Homo sapiens: one gene and its partners. The protein of the gene in region 2 interacts with the protein of the main gene of each other region in a biochemical or structural test. Each region holds a gene or a part of one and is shown on either strand. Other genes may lie near its edges. The genes, in order: RALBP1, CNKSR1, ILKAP, PTPRR, G6PC3, DOCK4 and DGKZ.

Region 1 (3,500 bases), on a different chromosome or scaffold from region 2:
CCTCAGCCTCCCAAAGTGCTGCGATTACAGGCGTGAGCCACCATGCCCGGCTAAAACATCTTATATTCTTTATTTTCAACTTACTTTGACATATTTTAACAGACGCAATGGAATGAATGAGGACCATGAGGGAAGTGGGAGCACCACAGTAGTAAAGCTGGGTTGAGGTTGAAAGCCCTCACTCCAGAAACAAATACCTGGACACAGCCAGCATTTAAGTATGGATGTTCATATGCTAGGAGGCCAGGGCATTAGGTTGGCTGAAAAGCTACTACAAGAAATTATTTCCTACCTAAAACTTACTCTTACAACACACTTGACTCTTCTATGATACAACCATCTCTATTATATTATAGTAATATTAAGTATCAATGTAATATTTACCAGATCCTGAAATCCTAATGATCAAACTAAAATCTGAGAAACATTTTGCTTTCAAAGCGTAATCAATGAGTAACAGAAGAATCTTTATTTTTTAGAGATAAAATCTTGCTCTGTCACCCAGAGAGGAGTACAGTGGCATGATCATAGCTCACTGCTGGGCTCAAGCAATCCTCCTACCTCAGCCTCCGAAGTAACTGGGACTACACATACATGCTACCACACCCAGCTAATTTTTAATTTTTATGTAGAGACAGGGTCTTGCTATGTTGCCTAGGCTGAACTCCTGGCCTCTCGCTATCCTCCTGCCACAGCCTCCTAAAGTGCTCGCATTAAAGGTGTGAGCCACCGCGCCTGACTGAAACGCTCTTTAGTAAATGAAAACACTCTCTAATAACAGTGACAGTGATTTATGGTGACTCAGAATACTGGCCAAAAAGAGGGCTTAAGATAATAAATATAACCTATCATCTCCCTTTTTATTGGCCTGAGTAAAATATCATTAACTGCAATTAAAAGAAAACATATACTCTATGACAGCACCAACTGAGCAGCAATAAAGGAAAGCCAAGTATGTATGTCGTAAAAAGATACCAATTAACACACTACCCAATTCCCTGAAGTTCCTTTTCAGATTCAGAGCCTATAACATGTCTCTCTAGGATCCATCCTTATGAATGAAATCCTCAGGCTAAATCTTTGACCAAACAATTAATGACAGGTCCCTTTGTGCCTGAGTTTGATGTGTGTCTGTGATCTAACGAAGCAATAATGCTATTGATTAAATAACTGGGATCTCTAAAATTCTACACACGAACTCTATAACTGTAGATGCCATGGGCTCCTCCTCCCCTAATGAAGGATCCTTGTCATCAGGTCTTGTTTATAAACCCACATCAAAGACTGTACCGCATTCAAATTACATCACTACAAGCTAAAGGGCAAGTATGTTATCTTATACATTGACACTGTCCAAATTATGAAAGGAAAAGACCCGTATTCAAGCTAATCCATTACCTATCTCCTCAAGTTCACTGCTTTACATGTGACTCAGCAATAGAAAATTACCCCAGTTCCCCAATGTCAGTACCAGAGGGTATATGTGTAGAGAAGACCATGTACCTGCACAGTTGGGCTGAGCACTATAGAAATGTTCTGTATATTCATTTTTGTTTCCAGTTCCTTTGCAATGACATGGTCCATGTGCACAATGAGCCAAGAAATCAGAAGATAGTTACATTCTGGCAGTTCTTTGAGTAAACGCTGGAATTCCTGCACTTTCTCAGTCTCCGTGGTCCTCCCACAAGCCTCTTCAAATCTGGGCATAAGCTCTTTGGTAAGCAAATTCTCTGGAAGGTCTCGCAAATACTGCTTCAGCAAACTGGCTACAGTGTTAGGCTCATAGTCTTCCAAGTTTGTAGACTCCTCCCGGTCATAGGCTGCTTTTAGCTCATCCACCTTTGATTTAATTCCTTAAAACATTCAAATTCAGAAGAGAGAAGATACTGAGAAAAGAAAATCAAACACACAAGTTTTCTTTACCATTATCCCCACCCTTGCTAAGGAGATGAGAACAGCAACCTGACCAATAACGAACCTCTTGTTATGAAATATTTATCTGCACAAAGGTCGTACAGTTCCTCTGTAAACACTAACATGTAAGACTACACTTGGCTGGGCGCAGTGGCTCACACCCATAATCCCAGCACTTTGGAAGGCTGAGGCGGGCAGATAGCTTGAGCCCAGGAATTCGAGACTAGCTGGACAACATGGTCAAAACCTATCTCTACAAAAAATACAAAAATTAGCTGGGCATGGTGGCGTGCGCCTGTGGTCCAAGTTCTTTGGGAGGCTGAGTTGGGAGGATCACTTGATCCTGGGAGGTTGAGTCTGCAGTGAGCCATAATTGCACCACTGGACTCCAGCCTGGGCAACAGAGTAAGACACTGTCTCAAAAAATAAAAAAAATAATTAAAAACAGGCCAGGCACCATGGATCACACCTGTAATCCCAGCACTTTGGGAGGCCAAGGCAGGAGGATTATTTGAGGTCAGGAGTCCAACACCAGCCTGGCTAACATGGCAAAAACCTGTCTCTACTAAAAATACAAAAATTAGCCAGGCGTGGTGGTGTGCGCCTGTAATCCCAGCTACTTGGGAGGCTGAGGCAGGAGAATCACTTGAACCTGGGAGGCAGAGGTTGCAGTGAGCCGAGATCACACCACTGCACTTCAGCTTGGGTGACAGAGCAAGACTCCATCTAAAAACAAAAAACAAAAAACAAACCCAAAAAACTAACTTCAAAAGTGAATTTAACCAAAAGTTAAATGATAATTGAAAAGCTCAACAGTCAGAAGTCAAAGCAACCATGGATATATTAAGCAAATATGCCCATTAATTCAGGAATTTGTTTTTAATGTAAAAACATTACACAGTGGCGCACACCTGTAATCCCAGTACTTTGGGAGGCCGAGGTAGGTGGATCACCTGAGGTAGGGAGTTCAAGACCAGCCTGGCCAACATGGTGAAACCCTGTCTCTACTAAAAATACAAAAATTAGCTGGGCATTGTGGCGGGTGCCTGTACTCCCAGCTACTCAGGAGGCTGAGGCAGGAGAATCGCTTGAACCCAGGAGGTGGAGGTTGCAGTGAGCCGAGGTCACACTACTGTATTCCAGCCTGGGTGAAAAGTGAAACTCTGTCTCAAAAAAATAAAAAAAAAGGTAAAAAGACAAAAATTAAACTACAATCCAAGTGTAAGTCTGGCTCTACACAGGCAGCCAGCTGCTTTTTCTAACAAGTCACAAGACTGACCACAAAAAAATGTGGCTTGGTGTACCTAAGTATGTTCCAAAAAGTTGTGGGTAAATTACTTTTTTATGTGTAAATATTGTACTGTAATTGCAAAGGGTGAATTAGCTACCCAAACAAACACTTTGAAAATTATTCTCCATTAAATCATCCCCATCTAATTTCTATTTTAAAGTTTGGATTATTTTAAGTATAACCTTAATCTGAACAGAGCTGGAACAAAAAAAATAAAGTATGGGTTTCTAAAATCGTTTTGCTTATTGAACAAAAGGAAACTAAAGCAAATGATTTGCAAACATTACATAAGATT
Region 2 (3,500 bases):
TGGCAGCTGCCTGGCAAGAACCTGCTCCAGCTCTGCCCCCAAAGCCTCGAGGCTCTGGCTGTGCGGTCTCTGGGACACCAGGAGCTCATCCTGGGCGGGGTGGAACAGCTCCAGGCCCTGGTGAGTGAATGCTGGTCACACTGGCTGCAGCTTCCACCAACCTGGGGGGTGTGATGGGGGGCTGGCTGCTGCCAGGGAGGTGACTTGCCCTCTTTCTGGCACAGAGCTCCAGGCTACAGACAGAGAACCTGCAAAGCCTGACAGAGGGACTTCTGGGGGCAACCCATGACTTCCAGAGCATAGTCCAAGGCTGCCTGGGGGACTGTGCCAAGACCCCTATTGATGTCCTCTGTGCAGCTGTGGAGCTGTTGCATGAAGCTGACGCCCTCCTCTTCTGGCTCAGCAGGTACCCGGGTTGGGGTGACGAGTGAGGGACTATTGTCATCCTTGGCCTCCTTCAGGGCGTGGGAGAGAAAAACAGATCTTGGCTCTTGTTCAGATATGGTGAGCCAGGCGTGGTGGCTTAGGTCTGTAATCCCAGCACTTTGGGAGGCCGAAGCGGGCAGATCACTTGAGGTCAGGAGTTGGAGACCAGCCTGGCCAACATGGTGAAACCCCATCTTTACCAAAAATATACAAAATTAGCCAGGTGTGGTGGTGCGCACCTGTAATCCCAGCTACTGGGGAGGCTGAGGCAGGAGAATCACTCAAACCTGGGAGGTGGAAGTTCCAGTGAGCCGAGATCATGCCACTGTACTCCAGCCTGGGCGACAGAGTGAGACTCCCTCTCAAAAAAAAAAAAAAAAAAAAAAAAGATATGGTGGAGCAGGGCAGAGGGATTAATCCACCTGTGCAGGGGCACTGGGATGCCAGAGTTCCCACCCCACCCTCCAGCTTGTAATAATCGATCTCATCAACAACCACTGAATGGAGAGCCTCCCCAACCCTGTGCACTGGCTGCTGCTTGTCCTACAGACCCCACCTCAAATGTCATCTCGGGGAAGCCTTCCCTGTTGTACACTCTCCAAGCTATACTATTAATAAATAATAAATAATAACTTATTATAAACTCATTATCCAATGTTTCATGATACTCATTACAGCCAAAGTTAAATTGATATTGATGTATGATGTCTTTACTGTCTGTTTCCCCAGTGCCTAGAACAGGGCTTGGCATGTGGTAGGCACATGACAAATAAGTCCTGTGCTAATCTCTTTAGATGTCTCAATCATCTCCTTTACTCTAAACCAAAACCCATCAGAGCAGGTATTATCCCCAAGTCTCTGAGGTGAGTAATTGGTGAGTAATTGGCTCTGAGTGGTTAAGCATAGTCCCTTAACCACTGTGCTATTCTTCCCCTGCCAGGTACCTCTTCTCCCACTTAAATGATTTCTCAGCATGCCAGGAGATCCGAGACTTGTTGGAGGAGCTGAGCCAGGTCTTGCATGAGGTAGGAGAACCAAGGGCCAGGCTTGGCCCATGCCCTAGAGACCAAGCTGGGCTAGAGCTTTTTATAACCTGTGAATCAGCCCAGGATCGAGTATGAGGATTGAGACGGGCGAGAAAGGAGGAGAGGAGGCCCTGCCACTGGGTATGGGACAATGGGGCCTGGGGTCCCCTAGCTGGCAGGGGAATTTTGACACTCAGGACAGGGAAGGAGGGGAGGGCACGTGTGGTGACTTCTGGGGGCCTGGTATCAGGGAAACGAGCCCTCTGGTTAAAACGCTGAGGCCCTGTGGTTCTGGGCAGGGGGCCAGTGTAGGGAAGGCAGGGAGGGACTGTACGGAATCCCACCCTGCCCCCAGGAGAAGGCAGTCCCCTTATGGCCCTTGCTCAGGGGAGGCCCCTGCTCTCTCATTCTACTTCCAGGATGGTCCAGCGGCTGAGAAGGAGGGCACAGTCCTGAGGATCGTGAGTCTGTGGGGTGGGAAGAGAGTGGGGGTAGGGGCGATCGGGCTCAGGCTACATAGCCCGCTCCCCTCCCCCAGTGCAGCCACGTGGCTGGGATCTGCCACAACATCCTGGTCTGCTGCCCCAAGGAGCTGCTGGAACAGAAGGCCGTGCTCGAGCAGGTGCAGCTGGACAGTCCATTGGTGAGCCCTGCCCTCCCACCTCTCACTTCTGACCCCTTGGCAGCCTTGTCTGGGCCCTGAAATAGGGTCCAGGATCCCACAGAACCCTGTGCTGCCATGGCTGGAAAGCCTTTTTTGTACAGATGCTAAAATGGAGGCCCAGAGGATTGGCCAGGGTCTCCCGTTGCTCTGCACCTCCCCAGTCCTGAGGGGCCACGCGGGTGTGGCCTCAGGTAGTGTGTTCCAGCCTTGGGATGGAGACGGGGCAGGGGCTTGGGGGCAGTTAGGAGAAAGGGAGAGGATGTGACCTTTCTTGGTTTAATCTTTGACCAGTGGGGAAGACCAGAGCCCTATCCCTGCCCTGTCCCTGCTTGTCCCTTTAGGAATGTTGCTGAGAAGCTGGTACCTCAGAAATCAGGGTCTCCAGCTTCCCTCTGGCTCTTAGCAGAGGAGAAGGCAGAGGCCCACAGGAGTAGCAAGTCCAAAGTCATACAGCAAGTCTGGGCAGGACCAGCTTGGGGTCAGCTCTTGCCACAGTTCCACCCACCATAGAGTCCTGGTGTCTGGCGGGGGTCCTGCCTATTGGCCCTGTTGCCCCCCAGCCCCCGGTGACTATAGCCTCTGCCTCTGCAGGGCCTAGAAATTCACACCACCAGCAATTGCCAGCACTTTGTGTCCCAAGTGGACACCCAGGTGAGAGCCCCACACCCTTCTCAGCCGCCCATCCCCGAGGCCTCTCACCTGCAAGCCAGGCCAACCTCAGGCCCCATTCCCCACGTCAGGTTCCCACTGACTCCCGACTGCAGATCCAGCCTGGAGACGAGGTTGTCCAGATCAACGAGCAGGTGGTGGTGCGTGAGGAGAGGGACATGGTAGGAGGTGAAGGGGTCACCGAGTGGAACCCAAGTCTGGTGGGTGGGGAGGCAACCAAGGGTTCTGACCAGGGTTGTGGGAGCTGCCTTCCAGGAGATGAGCCAGCTAAGTCTGGTGAGAGCATCCTCTGCAGAGCCCAGGTGATGGGGCCCATGGAAGCCCCCAGGAGGCTGCATGAGTGGGAGGCAGAAGTGGGAGGCTGAGAGAGAGCTCCCAGCACGAGGGTGAGAGTTGGTGGTTGCTTTAGAGCCTCCTGCCCAGGTTGATACCAGCCAGTGTTTCTGTCCCCCAGGTGGGATGGCCCCGTAAGAACATGGTGAGGGAACTGCTGCGGGAGCCAGCCGGACTCAGCTTAGTGCTGAAGAAGATCCCGATACCGGAGACCCCCCCACAGGTACCTTCCCCTGCCGCCCCCCGACCTGCCTTCAGACCCCCCCCTCCACAGGTACCTGCCCCCACCACCCCCACACCTGCCTTCAGACCCCCCCCAACAGGCACCTTCCCCTGCTGCGCCCCCCTAGCTCCCTTCAGACCCCCCCACAGGTACCTGCTCC
Region 3 (3,500 bases), on a different chromosome or scaffold from region 2:
AGTTTGACTCAGGGCCTGGATCTTAACTTTATGTTCTCTCACTGTGGGACCCCCCTCCCCCTCCCCGCCAACCATGAAGACACAACTCCTGGGTCTGCCTGTGTCTGCCAGTCCTTGCTTCAAATGACCTTGTCTTTGAGTGCTAGGATGAAGCCCAGTCTACTAGTGACTTTTTCCAACAGTCTACAGCTGTGTTTCTGTCTGGCTTTTACTTTATTTCCAGGTTCTCTTGCCACATCAATATCCCAGATGGTAAAGACTGAAGGGAAAGGAGCAAAGAGAAAAACCTCCGAGGAAGAGAAGAATGGCAGTGAAGAGCTTGTGGAAAAGAAAGTTTGTAAAGGTTTTCAGACAATTTGAAAACAAATGTATTAGACTTCATATTTTAAAACAACCCAGAGCAAAACCAGTTTCAGCTTTCTAATAATACTTTCTTTTTATGTCTGTATTTAAGAAATAAGTAGGGTTCCCTTTTTGCAAATGAATTTCCAAGTTTCTCTGTGCTTTCTCCTACTTTTCATGTACATCTATCTCTGATCCTACCTTTGATCAGATAGGAAACCTACATTTGTTCCTCAAGAGTTAAAAAATACAGGTGGTTTTTTTCTTAGCCTTCTGCAGTGAATGGTTAGTTTTTTGACCACCTAGTCTCTCTCTGACTTCCAATCTTTGTTTGCAGTTTGTCAATTAGTGCTTTGAATTACGTGATTTAGCTTAGTAGGCAGCTTCCCTAAGCCTGGAAAAAGCCGTTGAAATTTGTAGTCAGTTGTGTAACTTGTCAAAGTTAGTGAGGAAGAAAACGAAAAGTATTAACTAAAGAGAATACTTCAGTTGTGGTACTAAAGTATTCTTGAGCTGTGGGATTTTCTTTTTTTCTCTTTTTTTTGAGACAGAGTCTCGCTCTGTCGCCCAGGCTGGAGTGGCACCATCTCGGCTCACTGCAAGCTCCGCCTCCCGGGTTCATACCATTCTACCTCAGCCTCCCGAGTAGCTGGGACTACAGACGCCTGCCACCACGCCTGGCTAGTTTTTTGTATTTTTAGTAGAGACGGGGTTTCACCATGTTAGCCAGGATGCTCTCGATCTCCTGACTTTGTGATCTGCCCGCCTCGGCTTCCCAGAGTGCTGGGATTACAGGCGTGAGCAACCGTGCCTGGCCCGAGCTGTGGGATTTTCATTGACTGCATTGTCCTTTGTCACAGATTACCTCAGTGAAAGCTGTATGATGCAGGCAGAGGTATGTGAAAAAACCCACTTGTAGCTTTGCTGGGAAGATGTCATCTTCAACTTAGCTTGTCACTTCCCAGAAGACAGCTCTTCACAGTGTTCATTTTATTATTTGTCTGGCATTAGGTATCAGAAAATAAGCTTAAATGAGTCTAACCATTAAATGTAAATAGATCTCTGCCTGCATTGGAATCTTTTATCCTTTTCTTCCTCAGTTGAAGTAAAAGCAGCTGATCTTACTGTTTGTTCAAATTCTTCACCAGCCTTGAGCATGGAAATACATATTTTCAGGGCATCTTAAGGGCTTTTGAGATAAACTCTCCTGACTTGCATTTGTCCTTATTCAATTATCACAAGACTAATTTGCACATGATCCTTTTGCCTGATTTGAATCTCACTTCTCTGGGATGGCAGCACATCCCTTGCCCTGATGCTTTGACTTACACCCTAGACAGAGTTGTTTTGTGCTCACTGACTCCTCTTTTGTGTCCCTGTGCAACCTCTTAGAGCTCACCCTGTCCAACAGTGCTCCGATTTGAGTTATAGACTTGCAGCTGGGGGAGATGCCTTAAGGGGTATTGCTTATTTGTTTGCGCCATTAGGATATTGCTGAGTCAGACAGTCATAGTTCCCTCTCATTTGCTCTGGGACTAGGGTTTCCAGAGGGTTGGGCACAGTTTTGTATTGGCTCTTTTGTTCTCTTTTCCTTAGCCTCTTCGGTGATCTTTGGTCTGAAGGGCTATGTGGCTGAGCGGAAGGGTGAGAGGGAGGAGATGCAGGATGCCCACGTCATCCTGAACGACATCACCGAGGAGTGTAGGCCCCCATCGTCCCTCATGTGAGTCTCATGTGGTAGGAAGCCCGGCTGGCATTAACATCTCCTGGGTTCTGACTGGCATTTTGGACTGGCTAGTTTGTATTTACTAGAAAATCTAACACATCACTTGATTGTACATCAGTGATTCTCAGCTGGGGTTGATTTTGCTCCCCGCCCAGGGGACATTTGTCAGTGTTTGGGTACATTTTTGTCACAACTGCGGGAGGGAGTTGTTACTGGCATCTGGTGGGTAGAGACTAGGGATGCTGGTAAACATCTTAGAAGCACAGGGCAGCCCCACAACAAAGAATTGTTCAGCCTGGAATGTCAGTAGTGTCGCGGTTGAGCAGCCCTGCTGAGCGGGAGATGACGCTTCATAGCATGGCTCTGCAGCGTGTGTTACTCCTTACCAGCAACTGAGCGGCTTCTGGCAGAGAATATTTTTAATCCATGACCTAGAAGATAAGAGTTGGAAGCCACTAATTAAAGTATGAATGGTGATCAAGCAGAGCTAGTACAGATAATCAGGGCCCAGGAAGAACAAAAGTCAAAATGATGTCAAGGAAAAGACAGACAATGAAAAATTAGCTGCAACTATACAAACTAAAATGAAGCCTTCTGGATAAGCTCTTGGGCCTGGAAAAAAACCAGAAGGTAGGACATTAAGTTGGCTGTAAACATACATTATAGTACATATTACATAGGTTACATAATTCAGAATTACATAATAAATACATTACGTACCTTTACTGACACCAGTTGGTCATTAACATACAGTGTGCTGGAGCCGTTTGGGCTGATGGCGTTTGTCCAGTAGATGAGGTCTGCTCATGGAGATGAGGTGATGGCTGCTGCAGAGCAGCTGATCATATGTAGAGGGGACGAGATACACACCCATTGAGACAGGGTCTTGCTGTCTTGCTCAGGCTGGAGTACAGTGGCACAATCATAGTTCATTGCAGGCTTGACCTCCTAGGCTCAAGCAGTCCTCCCACCTCAGCGTCCTGAGTAGCTGGGACCATAGGCATGTGCCACCACAGCCGGCTAATTTTTTGAATTTTTTGTAGAGACAGTGTCTCCTTAAGTTGCTCAGGCTTGTCTCAGAGTCCTGGGCTCAAGCCATCTTCCCACCTTGGTCTCCCAAAGTGCCAGGATTACTCGCATGAGCCACCATACCCAGCCTGGGATTTGCATTAAAACCAGGAAAGGGACCTCTGGAGCCCAAGAAGGCAGATCCATTGAGTGTAAATTTAATTGGGAACACTACATCATGCCTTGCAAATAACAGGCAGTAAGAACAGCTCTGAGTTATAAACCAGATGAGGTTTTTTTTCTCATGGCTCAGGATGTCCTAAATTGAAAAGGAATTCCAAAAAACTTGAAAGAAAAGCAGCTCTCTAGAATAAATGTCATTTCTCGTGGGCATTTTTGTTTTTTTTTTTTCCTTGAAATAGTT
Region 4 (3,500 bases), on a different chromosome or scaffold from region 2:
ATTAACGCAAATTAGAGGATCACAACATCCTACATAATGAATTTTCTTAATGTCTACTTACATTCATTTAATTATACTGCATATTAATAGTAGTTGACAACAAAAAATACATGAGGGAATGATTATAGTTTCTCTTTGATCTTAACATTATTTAATTTGCTTAAATTGCATTTGTAGTACTTAAATAATTTCAAAGTAGAAATGTAATCCTCTAACATCATCTACTTTGTAGATGGCTATAGCTACATAATCTTACCTTTAAGACAAGGTTTCGAATGGTGTAGTTATCACATTCATTTACACTGATAACCAGAACCTCAACTTTTCCATATATCCCTCTCTTTTCCGGCCAGTATAGCACACATTTCTGGAGGAAGGGAAAGAGAATACAGCAAATATTAATGGCTTTTATTAGCCATGGAGTACTTTTCATTCAAGCATCTCAAGAGTTTTATATCATTAGTTTTAAAATATCAAATATCAATTTTTATAGTTTTGTAAATATACTAAAACCATTGAATTGTAAATCTTAAGCAGCTAGATTTTATGGTATATAAATTATATCTCAACAGTTTTTTTTAAAGTATCAGTTTCATATGTGCCTATTAAACACTGTCACTGCTGGCTCCATACAAAAAAAAAAGGCAGAATTACCCAAAACTCCTCAGAGAAATTAAGAACTAATTAAGAAGTTAAGAAATTTAAGAGTTAAGAAATTGAGATCCAAATATTAGAATTTATCATGTGCTGACTAGAAATAAAAGAATGTTTTCCCACAATAATTGAGGAAAGTTACATTTTCCTGCTTCAACAAACTTATGTCTAATGAGAATATCTAATATGTTAGGTGGCATACAACCAAGTTTCCTTTATATGTAAGGCAGATATAATGATCATTAATACAACTATGGTATTATATTTTCCCGGACCAACAGTTTTTTTCACTTATGGAACTAATTTACAAAAATTACGTTAAAAATATTTTTATAATGGATCCTCCTGAGGAGCTTTAAAAGAGTGACAATAATTATACTGCAAGCAAGGCAACATAGCATGGTGGTTAAGGCGCAGGCTTTGAACTCGGAACCTGAGTCCAAATTTTGGTTCTACCATTCATTACCTGTGAATCCACGAACAAGATACTTAAACCCTTTGGTTATAGTTTCTTTATTATTGGCTATCTGGAAAGTACTTAGGATAAAGCCAGGCATAGAGTAAGCACTTACAACATGTTATTATTGCTGTTGTTATTTTAAAACTACTGGGTGATAGGTTTTTGGCCCAAAGTGATTAGATCTTCATGCATTAAATATTATTTTGGTATTATTATAGTCAGTTATCATTATTAAATAAAAATTGCAAAATGAGATTCAAGCATACATATAATCTCATTTTGCTTTTTAAACAACTGTAAAATAACTATTTTTTACCACAAATTTTGATGATAAAGAATGTAAAATGACAAATGTTTATGTTTTATTTTGAGTGCTCTTGGAAGCAATGTTAATTTTAGAAATGTTTAAATAGCACTTATTTTCTCCCAACCATACATACATTTACATAGAAATTCTTTCATTTGTTGCCTTCAATCAGAACCTTTTAATACCCAGGACACTTGTTTCTTCACATCTTTGTCAAAGGCATATGAATACACTTGATAAAAATTTAAATACTTATAGATTTAAAAGAGCAGCAAAAGACTCACAAAATTATAGAACTGAAGGAAAAGTGACACAAAGTATCAGAAACACACCTCCAGGGCTCTATTATGCTAAGTACCACTACTCTACAAGCTAGCACAGCGAAGGAAGTCACTTCACCTAGCAGAATCAGTTTCTTTCATCCATTACAATAAAAACACATTTACATCCTCTACATTTTGACCCTTTTTCTAAATGAAGTAAATTGTTTCAGCTTTATTTACATGCCACCTGAGACTCTCAGGCTATCAGACCAAAAGACTTACTCTGGCTGACTTAATGTTAACATTAAGAGAAGAAACCTTTTTAAAGTAGAGCAACTCATTTCTCTCGAAATCTATGAGTTGCCAAATGTCTAAAATTTTCCCACTTTGTTAAAGGTAATCATACAAACCAATTTGCCTGGTTTCTTTCAATGAAGCATCAATTATTTCGCTGTAAGACCCGAGCTACTGTGTATCTTAAAACCCATGCCTCCCGATGAGTCCAAGAAGAATGACAAAGAATCTTGGAAAAGGTATTGAACAAAGAAAGAGGCATTCATTCAGTAGTCCAGCAGTCTGGCGTACGTGCCCCATTGTCCACGATCAGACCTGAGCAGCAGGGCCCTCTTTAGGAAGGTGGCTCTCAAAACCAGTAAGAAAAGCTGCAAAGCAGGAGCTTGCCGCCTGCACCCTGACTCTTAATACTTGCACAGGCTTCTGCACCTACTTGATAAATGGAAATGCTGCTCGCTTCTCTCCCAAGCTTGCCGGGGGCCCTCTTGAATGTTTTTTTTGACTCGTTACCAAAAAAGCAATTGGCAGTCAGCTCCCAGTAGACAATGCAATGTGACTTGTTCATTCAAACAACCCTTAATTAGCATCCCATCTCCTTTCTGAGATACAATAGCTTATTTTTACACACTGAATACATTTTTCCCTCATTTAGATGACAGAAAAAGAGACCAGATAAGTGTGGGTACTTTTGAATATGAGGTGGGGGACAGCTGCAAATGCAGTTGTTTCTAAGAGTACAAGTTCATGTTCAAATTATTTTCCTGTACAGCTTTTTAGGGTTTCTTTATTGTGGTGCTAACAATGAGATAAAAGAGGCAGAAAAGGCAGGGAAGAAAAATGCTGCCTTACAGATAATACTGTGAAACCACACTAATTGTAGGTGATTCAAAATAGCATGCTATTTAGCAGAATATAACCCCAAATCATCACTATTCTTTTGCTAGCTAGGCTTATCCTTTCAGTAAAATTATCTATTAATTCTAAGAATCCATAATTTGGAAGAAAAAAATAGGTTTCCAGAGGACAGTGTCTCTTGTGCAAACAAGTTATTATCAAACTCTGACTGAAAAGATTCTGGACATTAACCAGTGCTTTGTAACTGGTGGTTTACAGCAAAAGTAGGATGTAACACAAAGCAATGCAAATTCTTTTTTTTTTTTTTTTTTTTTTTTTTTTTTTTTTTGTGATGGAGTCTCATTCTATCACTCAGGTTGGAGTGCAGTGGCACAATGTCAGCTTACTGCAACCTCCACCTCCCGGGTTCAAGCGATTCTCCCGCCTCAGCCTCCCAAGTAGCTGAGATTACAGGTGTGCACCATCACGCCCAGCTAATTTTTGTATTTTTAGTAGAGACGGGGTTTCACCATGTTGGCCAGACTGGTCTTGAACTCCTGACCTCAGGTGATCTGCCCACCTTGGCCTCCCAAAGTCCTGGGATTATAGGCGTGAGCCACTGCGCCCGGCCGCCAGCTCATATTTTTGTGATCTTTTTTCTTCCCTTGATTCTCCTTCTGGCCCCCAC
Region 5 (3,964 bases), on a different chromosome or scaffold from region 2:
CTGGCCTTCCAAAGTGCTGGGATTACAGGGGTGAGCCACTGTGCCCAGCACCTTTTTTATTTTTTATTTTTTTTTATTTTTTGAGATAGAGTCTCGCCCTGTCGCCCAGGCTGGAGTGCAGTGGTCCCATCTCGGCTCACCGCAACCTCCGCCTCCCGGGTTCAAGCGATTCTCCTGCTTCAGCCTCCCTAGTAGCTGAGACTACAGGCGCGTGCCCCCACGCCCAGCTAATTTTTGTATTTTTAGTAGAGATGGGGTTTAACTATGTTGGCCAGGCTGGTCTGGAACTCCTGACCTTGTGATCCGACCGCCTCGGCCTCCCAAAGTGCTGGGATTACAGGTGTGAGTCGCCGCGCCCGGCAAAAAAAAAAAAAAAAAAAAAACTTTTCAAGAACAAAGTTGATTGAGGTAGGAAGAAACTAAGGAGACACTGTTCAACAGTATTCTAGGCAGGACCTCGCCTAGAATAGCTGAGATTTCTATTTTCTATGTGAGTTCCCCCAGATGACTGTTTCAAACTCTGTCGCGGGTGTGTGCCAATCCTCTTCCCATACCAACACTGTTACTATCTCTTGGTTTCATCTGCCTAAGCAGGGTTTTGGATGGCAGGAGGATGGGGGTGGGGGAAGCAAGGGAAGAACTGGAAGGAAGTGTGACTTTGCGCTATATGTGAGAATTCGCCTTTTTAGGGAAGACCCCTCAAAATCAAGAGACTTATCTGTCAGCCTCCAGATTAATAGCAGGCGAATTAGAAAGGGGGAGTCTTGAGGCTGGGGAGGAAGGAGTGAACTGATTAGGGGTGTATGCAAATTTAGGATCCCGCTTCAGCTCCCAGGAGGAGGGGCTGTCTGCAGCCTTTTCTCCAAAGGATCTCAGATTTATTTATTTTTTTGCTGTTTGTTTTTTTTTTTTTTTTTTTGGTGGGTATTGGTGCTGGAGAAGAGAGGTCCGGTGGGGAAAGAATCCCGGCCCTGGAGATTATATATCCGCCTTCGCATCAGCGGAGCAGGGACGCTGGGAGCGCGCGCGGCCCGCCGGCTAGTCAGTCCCCTGACCCGGAACCGCACTGGTGCCGCCGCTAGCCGGCTGCCCACGTGCCTGCAACAGTGGCCACGTGGGGCCCTGAGGAAACGCCTTTACAAAGGTTTGTCCCCTGCGCTGCCCAGTAGGGAGGAAAACCGGAGGAGAGCGCAGGAGGAAACAGTACCGGCTGGAGGCCGGTCTTGCAGGAGCGGGGGACTGCTGGGGGCGGGGCTTGGTGGTGACCGCTGGCGGGGCGGGGCCTGGGGCTCAGAGGGGTGGGCTTTGGAGATCAGAGGGTCGACGCTGCTTCGTTGCCTGGACTCTGGTTTCCGCCCTGGAGCAAGCCGGGGCCTGGTCGGCAGCTGGGCCGCCATGGAGTCCACGCTGGGCGCGGGCATCGTGATAGCCGAGGCGCTACAGAACCAGCTAGCCTGGCTGGAGAACGTGTGGCTCTGGATCACCTTTCTGGGCGATCCCAAGATCCTCTTTCTGTTCTACTTCCCCGCGGCCTACTACGCCTCCCGCCGTGTGGGCATCGCGGTGCTCTGGATCAGCCTCATCACCGAGTGGCTCAACCTCATCTTCAAGTGGTGAGACAGAGAAGCCCTCCGGCATCCTGGTCCCCACCCCCGAGGGCCCTGAGTCATGTGTAAGCCCTGGTCTCTTTCAGCAACTGTCTCAAGGGCCTTCCCACCCCTACTCTGTAGTCCCTGATTTTTTTTCCCCTTGAGCATCTTTGTGCAGCTTGGACTCAAACCTCAGAGTCCAACCATCCTACTCATTAGACCAGTGTTCTTCAAACTGGTCTGATGGAAAAATCACCTAAGGGGCGTGTCTAAAATGTAAATATCCCATCCTCATCTCACACTTACTAATTTAGAAACTCCAAGGGGTTGGGAATTTATTTTTTATTTTTTATTTTTGGTTTATGGGAATTCATATTTTAACAAATATGGTGATTTAAGTAGTGGAGAGTCCTACCTCTCAACTCACTTTTTCATTCATGTATTCATTCATTTGCTATAATTTTTCAGAAGCATGCTTTGTGCTGGGCATCACGGTAGCTGCTAAGGACAGAGACACCTTGCAGATTAAGGTGTGGTCCCTGGACCATGCCCAACGGCATAGGCAGCACTTGAAAACTGGCTAAAAACGCAGACTCTCAGGCCCCGGGCCAGAGCTACTGAATCAAAATCTGCATTTTAACAAGGTTCCCAGGTGATTCCCTGTGCGTATGCAGTAAAGTTTGGGCTAAAGCACTGCTTTCCAGGGAACACTTTCTCTTCTTTCTCTTTCATTCACCAGTAGACTCTTCACACTGAGACTTAGAAGCCAGGAATCCCAGGGACATGGGTGGAGGCCCTGTGGCCCCTGGGGCTGGGCATGCAGCCACACCTCCCTTCACCTCAGCCTCTGTTGCCAGATCCTCAGCCTGGGGGAAGGAAGGGAGGCTCATAGGAGGTATTTCAATGAGCTGGAATGACTTGCTGAAAAACAACATAGAGTTCCCCTCCCTTCCACTCTTTTCCACGAGGGCCTCATCCTTATGTAAAGGGAACCACAGTGATCTGTTCACTTCTTTCTTGCCTAATTGCCCTTTGCTTTGTGCTCTCCTCTCTCAAAGTCTGTATAAGCCTCCCCCTCTATTCCTTGTCCCCCAAAGATCACAATCTCCTTCAGACACTATTAATGTCCCCCAAGTGGCAAAGTCCCTATTCATTTTCATTTTCTCTTTTTTTTTTTTTTTTTTTTTTGAGACGGAGTCTCGCTCAGTTGCCCAGGCTGGAGTGCAGTGGTGCAATCTTGGCTCACTGCAAACTCCGTCTCCCGGCTTCATGCCATTCTCCTGCCTCAGCCTCCCAAGTAGCTGGGATCACAGGCGTGTGCCACCACACTCGGCTAATTTTTGTATTTTTAGTAGAGAAGGGGTTTCGCCTTGTTGGCCAGGCTGGTCTCAAACTCCTGACCTCAGGTGATCCGCCCGCTTCAGCCTCCCAAAGTGCTGGGATTATAGGCGTGAGCAACCTGGCATTCTTTTTTTTTTTTTTTTTATTCTTTTTGAGATGGAGTCTTGCTCTGTTGCCCAGGCTGGCGTGCAATGGCATGATCTTGGCTCACTGAAACCTCTTTGTCTCTCAGGTTCAAGAGATTCTTCTGCCTCAGCCTCCCCAGTAGCTGTGATTATCGGCACCCACCACCACGCCCGGCTAATTTTTTATTTCTAGTAGAGACAGGGTTTCACCTTGTTGGTCAGGCTGGTCTCAAACTCCTGGCCTCAAGTGATCCACCCTCCTCTGCCTCCCAAAGTGCTGGGATTACAGGCGTGAGCCACCGCGCCTGGCACCGCCGTTCATTTTCTGTGTGAGCACTTGTTGTATATATACTAGGCTCAGTTTTCAGAGGGGAGAGGCAAGTGCCTTCTGTATATCCCTCCCCAGCACGTGGCTTCCTGCCAGCATCTCTTTTGCTATCCCATCTTTTCTCTTTCTGGCCACAGCAGCCTCTTCATTGTGTGGTTCCCAGGGCCCAGCCAAGCACTTGCTAGACCAGAGGATTTTGACATTTTTTTGTCCTCCTTATTCTTTCTCAGCCTTCTCTGTCCATTTCCCACCCCCATTTTCAGACCTGAGAGGCTCACCTAAATAATTTAGGTGTGGATAATTCAGGCTGTAACTGGGGACATGGAGGCAGGGGTAGCAGGAGGGTTAGTGAGGGCCTGGAGGAGAGAGCTGGGTCCTGGACTCTCTGTGGATGATAAGAGCTGGCCTTGCAGTGAGAGGGGGTAGAGTGGGACGGCTGAGTATCTCAGAGCACACACACGGCTTACCACAATCTCTTGCCTCTGTATCAGTTTTATTTTTTATTTTATTCACTTTTTCTTTTTTTGAGACAGGATCTCACTCCATCACCAGGCTGGAGTACAATGGCACAATCACAGCTC
Region 6 (3,500 bases), on a different chromosome or scaffold from region 2:
GTATTGATTCCTGAATTCTTGCTAATGGGGCACAGTCATTTGTGCCTCATTAATACTTCAGCATTTGCTCTTGTTCAATGACAAATTTTATATAGGAAACTATCAAGAAAGGAAGCGCAAAATTCAAGTAAACATTTCTTCTGGAGCCTCTTGCTTAATCTAGCTGATTGGAACTCTGAAGCAAATTGCACCTTGAAAAGAAATACAGTAGATACCACGGTGTCAGGGTAGTAAGGGATTTAGCTACCAATTCACAAAATAGAATTTTACGAATGTAGACAGCAGTCAAACAGCAAAAGCAACCTTAAAGAAGTATTTTGTTTCAAGAACAAAACAATTTCCAGTCCCAAGCTTTGCAACCCCTTAAGTATACTGTCTTGCTCGCCTGCTTGAACTTTAATTCTGATGATCTGCACTGATAAACCTTGCCTTATTTACAGAAGTCTTCTAAAATAAGGACCACTGTGTTAGGATGTGCACTGACTTAATAAGCTTTCTCCAAGTATCAAGTATTCAGTAAAAACGATACAACATTGTCACACATTGTATCGTTTGACAATATCGTATTGGTTTTAAGATTAAACTATATAAAAAAAAGTGAACATAAAAAGGTACAAAAGGAGTCTTTATCACTATTTACCACTTCCAAATGAGAAACGTTTTAATGAAATTCAGCCATACTTCATTTAACATCTGGCGTTTTAGATCAGCAACTTTTAATATTGTGCAACATGATATTTAATAAGCAAGTTTTAATTCCATTCATCGAAGGAGCTGAGTAAGTTATTAAAGTGCCTACACTAAATGTCTTCTCATCATACTTCTTATTTTGTAAACGGGCAAAGAATGCATCGCAGGTACATAGAAAAGTGACTTATAACTGAGAGACCTTGCGGGGCAGGGGCCTGGGCCGCGGGCCGGGGTCAGTCCTCCGGGCCCCATTCTCCAGGTGGCTGGATCGCGCTGCCAGAGGCTTGGGGGGCAGCGCGGGCGGCTCCGACGTGACGGGGATGGAGAGGCTGTGAGGTAGCGGGACGGGGCGCCGCAGAGTCCGCTCGTAGACGCTGTACGGGGGCGGAGTCTTGCTCTCCTTGCGCACTGGCTCCTCCCCGCCGTAGCTCGGCACGGGCACCGGCACTGGCACCGGCAGGGGGGCCGACTGTTCATTCACCTGATTTTCAAAGCCTGAGGTTTCCGACGTGCTGCACCGGCTGAGAGAAGAAATCCCACTGCTGTAGCTGCCCGACAAGACAGGGGAGTTGGAGATGAGTCCTGGCGAGTGGTACTCCACTGGAGAGGGGGTGAAAGACTGCACAGAGCCCTGCTCCGGGGAGAAGGAAACGAGAGGGAGACACAGCATTGAGTCGTGAACGCAGATGCGCTGAAATGTACGCCCCGACGCGGAGGCCCCGGCCCCCAGCACCCCCAAAGCCGGCTGCAGCAGGAGATGCAGCCTTTAAGGAGGTGATTAAGGTAAAAGGCCATTATGGTGGATCCTAATCCAAGCTGACTGGTGTCCTTATAAGAGACATTTGGACACACAGGGAGACGTCAGGAATGCGACACACACAGACCTTGCAGGAAGGGCGGTCTGCAAGCCCAGGAGGGAGGCCTCGGGGAAACCAAGGCTGCCACGCATTGATCCTGGACTTCTACCTGCCAGAATTGAGAAAATACATTCCCAGTGTCTAAGCCACCCAGTTTGTGGTATTTTGTGAGGGAAGCCCGAGCAGACGAATACACTCACACTCAAATTTGAGTGTTGTCCTTTGTAGCACTGAAAATGCACACCAGACGTTTATCTGCGAGGGCCACCAGTCCTCGAGTTCAGTTCACCGCCCAGTTTACTCCTTATCATTTTCAGATAGAGGAGAAAGGAGCTGGGCATGGTGGCTCACGCCTGTAATCCCAATACTTTAGAAGGCCGATGCAGGGATCACTTGAGGCCAGGAGCTTGAGACCAGCCTGGGCAACATGGCAAAACCCCATTTCTACTAAAAATCCAAAGGGTTAGCTGGGCGTGGTGGCTCATGCCTGTAATCCCAGTTCCTCTGGGAGGATCACCTGAACCTTGGGAGGTTGAGACTGCAGTGAGCCGTGGAGCCACCAGTGCACTCCAGCCTGGGCAACACAATGAGACCCTGTCTCAAAAAATAAATAAAGGTATCCACCAAGATAATCTGGAGGCACACATTAGTCCTATAGTTTGGAAGAGAGGGAACTGGCCAAAAACCCCAAAAACCTAAAAACGCCATAAAACCTTTGGGGGCGCTATTCACTTTCCCAGCTCAGCAGGGCATGCTGCAGGCCAGGAGCCAGGGCCGCTGAGCACACTCAGCTCAGAAGACCCAGAGAGCTCAGGAGGAGGAGCAGAGGCACCCGAGGTTCTGCACCTGATTTCTCCAGCCATCACTCCAGACTCCAGACTCCTGAGCTGAACTGGCGAACTGGCAGCCCTCGGGGCTGTAGCCTGTGATGTGAGCTGTTTCCTCAGCAGTTTTTTAAAAACCTAATTTAGTTAATTTTTAACATTTCAAATTTCACATGAAACTCCAGAATTCTGGCAGTTCATAAAGAACTAGGAGTTCTGGCCACAATGGCACACATTCTCTTAATAGAGATAATCTTTAAAAGCTGAGAAGGGCTGTCCCTTTTCACTTTGCCAGTCCCCACTATGCCACGTGGGGACTACACCCGGCCTCCTTCATTTGTGTCAGCTGTCTGGCCCCATTTGGCATCTGAGTTTGTTACTTTCCCAACTAGTATCCCAAGGAAAACGAGTCCTAAGATAGATGCTCTGTGAAAAGAGGGTTCCGCTGGGAAATGCTGCACACTGTATACTCCTTGTGTATATTCAAAACATATTCGCATTTTCAAGGCTTAGAATAAAGGAATACAAATAATTTTGTTCAGTCCAGTGTTTTCCAAACTTACTTGACTATAGACCTTTTCTCCCCCGCTTATTACATAATGTCCTGGAAAACTAGTGTTCTATGGTATACACTTTGAGAAATGCTATCTTCTTAAGCTAACTTGACTTTGGTTTCTCTTTGTAAACAAAATAACGCTGGTAGATACACATCCTGTCATTTAGTAGGAGCCTAACATTAAGGCCAATTAAGAGTTCCCAATTCACTGCTACCTCTGTCAAAAGTTAGACCTGAAATTCAAAATATGGCAGGTCAGCTCAGTCTTCGCTGTAGGGTTAGACCCACAGTTTGATGGCTGGCTGGGGTAAAAAAAAAACCCAAAACCCCACTAAACTCTTATCAGTTAAGGCAGCACACTGCAAGGCTAGTAACATGGTAGCAGTGTGCCCCCTAATGTAACCCAGGAGGTATAACACAAATGTTCGATCTATGTTCTCTTCCTTCAAACCCTACATATAAAGACATGGCTTCGAACTGCATATGGCCAGTAAAAATGTACACAGGTCTGCTGAGAGACAGTATATACCAGCTTGCTAAGACTATTTTATAGCTATTCAAACATTTTTAGCT
Region 7 (3,500 bases), on a different chromosome or scaffold from region 2:
GGCCCCAGGGCATGGTGCCCGCACAGTACCTGCAAAGGCGGGCGATGACATGGGCCTCAAAACACAGTCTCTGCAGGACAAGGACAGCAGGGCTCCCCCCAGCTCCGGTAGCCCCCTCCTCACCTGGGGATGTTCAGGAAAACAACACACTGGGGTTTCAGGTCCTGGATCTTGGGAGTCAAGTCCATTCCATCACACTGGAGGCGGGCGGGGAGGGTGTTGAGGTGCATGTGCCAGGTGGCCTCCGCCTCCCTCCCTTCCGGCCCACCCACCCACGGCAGCCTGGCCCCGCTCACCACCACTCGGATGTGCTTGGCCAGGTCCTTGGAGCTGCCCATCAGGAAGTCAGAGAAAGCTGTCTGTGGGAGACAGAGGGCGTCACCATCTGCTGACAGAGATCTTTCCTCACCAGCACCCGGCAGGGCTCCTGGGGCCTGGTGGACACAGGTGGGCACGGGCACGGGTGGTAGAAGAGGTGGGCACAGGCGGGGGTGCAGACCCCACTCACCCCGGCGTAGAACATCTTATTCCGAAAGCGGCTGTTGAATTTCTCTGGGTTGGCCTCTGGGTGGAGACAAGCAGTGGGGGCCAGTGAGTCACCCCAGCCTGCCCAGGTGGGGTTGGGGGAGGGCTGGGATGGATGCCTTCACTGGCGGGAGCAGGGTCTGACCCTCCCGGGGACACTCCTGTGCCCACCCTGCCCTGGCCTCAGTGGGAGGCTGCCAACCTCGAGACTCGTGGAACTCCAGGGTGACGTGGGCGTCAAAGCCCAGGCTGAAGTAGTTGTTGAAGACATCCAGGGGCAACTGGAAAAAGGTCAAGGGACCAAAATGAGGGCTGGGCCTCACAAATGTCCCCGCTCCAGGGGCCTCGTGTGGCCGAGCCAGCTCAGCCCATCTGTTCACAGGCTTTTCCTGGTCAGCAGCGTCCGCTAGGGCTCAGCCCAGCTCACCCGCTGTCAGGCACAGCCCTGCTCTGCCTGGTGGCTCCTGGGGGATTTCCCTGCGTGCCTGCAGCATCTCTTCCCTGTCAGCTCCCCTAACACTTCTTCCTGACATGCCATGTGGAGCACAACAGCGAGGCTTGGTTTTGCTCACTGCTTAGAGAAGTGCCTGGCAGGTAGCAGGCGCTCAGTGCATGTCTATGGAATAAAGCAGCATCTTCTGACCAGGCGTGGTGGCTCATGCCTGTAATCCCAGTGCTTTGGGAGGCCGAGGCAGATGGATCACCTGAGGTCAGGAGTTCAAAACCAGGCTGACCAACATGGTGAGACCCCATCTCTACTAAAAATACAAAAATTAGCCGGGTGTGGTGGCGGGTGCCTGTAGTCCCAGCTACTCAGGAGGCTGACGGAGGAGAATAGCTTGAGCCCGGGAGGCAGAGGTTGCAGTGAGCCAAGACTGTGCCACTGTACTCCAGCCTGGGTGACAGTGAGACTCTGTCACAAAAAACAAAAAACAAAAACAAAAAAAAAAACAAGAAAAAAAAAAGAAAACAGAAAAACAAAAATTAGCCAGGTGTGGTGGCACCTGCCTATAATCCCAGCTACTCAGGAGGCTGAGGCAGGAGAATCGCTTGAACCTGGGAGGCGGAGGTTGCAGTGAGCTGGGATTGCGCCACTGCACTCCAGCCTGGGTAACAGAGCGAGACTCAGTCTCAAAAAAAAAAAAAAAAAAACAAAAAAAAAACACAGAAAAAACAGCATCTTGTGAGGCAAGTACTATTATTCCCATCGTACAAGGAAGAAGTGGAAGTTGGAGAAATGAAGAGACACGCCCGAGGTCCCAGAACCAGCAAGTGGAAAAGTGGGATCCAGTCCCCAGTCACCTGCCCTGCCCCCCACCAACCCTGGCCAACTTACCCGGTCGGTGGCGCCTTCATCTCGGTCCTCAGGCCCTGCCTCGGGGTTGGGCTCAGCGTGGAGGTCCCAGCGGTCCAGCTGTACCACGTTCCCCTCCTCCACGTGGGAGAGGATCTTGGACACAGGCTCATCTGTGTAGCCCTGGGGGAGCAGGCAGGGACTGAGCCCTCTGTGGCTGGAGAGGCCCCAGCTGCACCCCCCTCCTATGGGTGCTTACCCCACCCCAGTTGAGGGTTCGGGCCAAGTCGTTGCCAGTACCCAGGGGCAGGATGGCAACAGGGGGTGGCGGCTTCAGGCGTAGCTGGTCCAGGGTGGAGAGGATCCAGCCCACCTGGGGGAGGAAGAACAGAGGCAAATCAGGCCCACAGGGACCCCGGCTTCAGGCCCAGCCCTGGTGCTCGGCTGGCCCATGCGGGGAGCTCACCGTGCCGTCGCCCCCGCACGCCAGGATCCGCAGGTTGTGCACTTTGCGGTACATCTCCAGCCTGGGCTCATGGGAAGATGGCAGTGGGGTCAGGGGATGTGTGCTGTACCCCAGGAGTGAGGCAAGTTCCCCCCCATGTCCCCCACAAAACCTTGGCAAGTACTTACGCCTCCTTGGGCCCTCCCTGGCTCAGGTCGAAGACTTGTCGGGGATTGAGATACCAGAGGAAAGACTGGATGATCTTTGCACCCTGGATGGGATGGGGAGCCAAGAGACAGTCAGGCAGTGGTGGGACGAAGTGGGAGCAGCAGAGGGAGAGGGGTGTGACTGTGGGAACCAGGGCCAATAAGGGGTGAGGGGTGGAGAAAGGACAGGATTTTCTCAGGATCCCTGGGAAAGAGGGATTGGGGTAGAAGCCAGAAACGGGCTCTGGGAACAGCTGCTGGCAGACGGGCTGGACCCCAACCCCCGCCCGAGCCCTTAGCTGAGAGGCAAGGCCGCGTTCACCTGGTTGCCCCCACTCTTGGGGTTCACAAACACCAGCAGGGGCTTCATGAGCGGGGAGGGGGTGGGCCTGATGATGAAGGGTCTCCAGCGGCCCTCCTGGGAGACAAGGTGAGAGGCTGTAAGCTCCTTCCCGTCCAGGACACCCTACCATCATCCTTAGCAGGCCCCCTGGGTGACTTTGTTCCCTCTTTGTACCCTCACGTACCATCTCTGGGCCAGATCTTACCAGGCCACAGAGCAGAAACTGGCATCTAATCCTGCCTTCCTCAGAGGCCCCAGAGCCCACACAGACCCCCACCAGCTGGCAGCATTAGCTGGGGGTGGAAGTTCTGTACCCTGAGCAACAGACCCCTCTCTCCTGCTCCCCTGCAGCCTCTGCCCAGCCTGGGGCTGACCTCAGGCCCTTTCTTGCTGGACTTCCTCTTGAAGGATGCCCTCTTCTTCTTCTTGCTTGCTTTCAGAGTATTCTGCAAGGGAAGCAGGGGTGTTGGTGACGAGGTGGGCAGGCTGGGGTAGCTGGCAGACCCCAAGTGCGTACGGGGCATCAAGGGTGCAGGCAGTACTCACCTGGGGCCTCCGGGCGCGGAGGATCCAGGTGGGCGGGATGACCACGGCTGCGTGGACCCCCAGCGAGCACGGCTCCTCGATCTGCTGCAGCATGAAGCAGGACACCTTGCTGTGGTACTGAGGAGAGCGAGGGGCCGGGCT

Evidence for each region.
Region 1: the proteins of CNKSR1 (region 2) and RALBP1 interact in a test that uses a peptide from one of them, tested with the Homo sapiens proteins (one large-scale study listed by IntAct).
Region 3: the proteins of CNKSR1 (region 2) and ILKAP form a complex in vitro, tested with the Homo sapiens proteins (one large-scale study listed by BioGRID).
Region 4: the proteins of CNKSR1 (region 2) and PTPRR form a complex in vitro, tested with the Homo sapiens proteins (one large-scale study listed by BioGRID).
Region 5: the proteins of CNKSR1 (region 2) and G6PC3 form a complex in vitro, tested with the Homo sapiens proteins (one large-scale study listed by BioGRID).
Region 6: the proteins of CNKSR1 (region 2) and DOCK4 interact in a test that uses a peptide from one of them, tested with the Homo sapiens proteins (one large-scale study listed by IntAct).
Region 7: the proteins of CNKSR1 (region 2) and DGKZ interact in a test that uses a peptide from one of them, tested with the Homo sapiens proteins (one large-scale study listed by IntAct).

Annotation. Positions count from the first base shown.
Region 1 is NC_000018.10:9,520,513-9,524,012, reverse strand, and holds part of RALBP1 (ralA-binding protein 1), read right to left. Parts: intron 1,854-3,500; coding exon 1,504-1,853; intron 1-1,503. UniProt on the Homo sapiens protein: Multifunctional protein that functions as a downstream effector of RALA and RALB. As a GTPase-activating protein/GAP can inactivate CDC42 and RAC1 by stimulating their GTPase activity.
Region 2 is NC_000001.11:26,180,491-26,183,990, forward strand, and holds part of CNKSR1 (connector enhancer of kinase suppressor of ras 1), read left to right. Parts: coding exon 1-120; intron 121-224; coding exon 225-406; intron 407-1,366; coding exon 1,367-1,451; intron 1,452-1,870; coding exon 1,871-1,912; intron 1,913-1,989; coding exon 1,990-2,094; intron 2,095-2,706; coding exon 2,707-2,766; intron 2,767-2,855; coding exon 2,856-2,924; coding exon of another isoform or gene 2,925-2,945; intron 2,946-3,238; coding exon 3,239-3,340; intron 3,341-3,500. UniProt on the Homo sapiens protein: May function as an adapter protein or regulator of Ras signaling pathways.
Region 3 is NC_000002.12:238,186,696-238,190,195, reverse strand, and holds part of ILKAP (integrin-linked kinase-associated serine/threonine phosphatase 2C), read left to right. Parts: intron 1-223; coding exon 224-343; intron 344-1,938; coding exon 1,939-2,065; intron 2,066-3,500. UniProt on the Homo sapiens protein: Protein phosphatase that may play a role in regulation of cell cycle progression via dephosphorylation of its substrates whose appropriate phosphorylation states might be crucial for cell proliferation.
Region 4 is NC_000012.12:70,662,239-70,665,738, forward strand, and holds part of PTPRR (receptor-type tyrosine-protein phosphatase R isoform 1 precursor), read right to left. Parts: intron 368-3,500; coding exon 257-367; intron 1-256. UniProt on the Homo sapiens protein: Sequesters mitogen-activated protein kinases (MAPKs) such as MAPK1, MAPK3 and MAPK14 in the cytoplasm in an inactive form.
Region 5 is NC_000017.11:44,069,571-44,073,534, forward strand, and holds the start of G6PC3 (glucose-6-phosphatase 3), read left to right. Parts: upstream 1-1,164; 5' UTR 1,165-1,395; coding exon 1,396-1,613; exon of another isoform or gene 1,614-1,672; intron 1,673-2,057; exon of another isoform or gene 2,058-2,251; intron 2,252-3,964. UniProt on the Homo sapiens protein: Hydrolyzes glucose-6-phosphate to glucose in the endoplasmic reticulum. May form with the glucose-6-phosphate transporter (SLC37A4/G6PT) a ubiquitously expressed complex responsible for glucose production through glycogenolysis and gluconeogenesis.
Region 6 is NC_000007.14:111,727,400-111,730,899, forward strand, and holds part of DOCK4 (dedicator of cytokinesis protein 4), read right to left. Parts: intron 1,322-3,500; coding exon 875-1,321; 3' UTR 1-874. UniProt on the Homo sapiens protein: Functions as a guanine nucleotide exchange factor (GEF) that promotes the exchange of GDP to GTP, converting inactive GDP-bound small GTPases into their active GTP-bound form. Involved in regulation of adherens junction between cells.
Region 7 is NC_000011.10:46,371,463-46,374,962, reverse strand, and holds part of DGKZ (diacylglycerol kinase zeta), read right to left. Parts: intron 3,477-3,500; coding exon 3,360-3,476; intron 3,260-3,359; coding exon 3,188-3,259; intron 2,889-3,187; coding exon 2,793-2,888; intron 2,536-2,792; coding exon 2,453-2,535; intron 2,347-2,452; coding exon 2,286-2,346; intron 2,193-2,285; coding exon 2,079-2,192; intron 2,003-2,078; coding exon 1,862-2,002; intron 807-1,861; coding exon 728-806; intron 565-727; coding exon 509-564; intron 360-508; coding exon 297-359; intron 198-296; coding exon 124-197; intron 30-123; coding exon 1-29. UniProt on the Homo sapiens protein: Diacylglycerol kinase that converts diacylglycerol/DAG into phosphatidic acid/phosphatidate/PA and regulates the respective levels of these two bioactive lipids.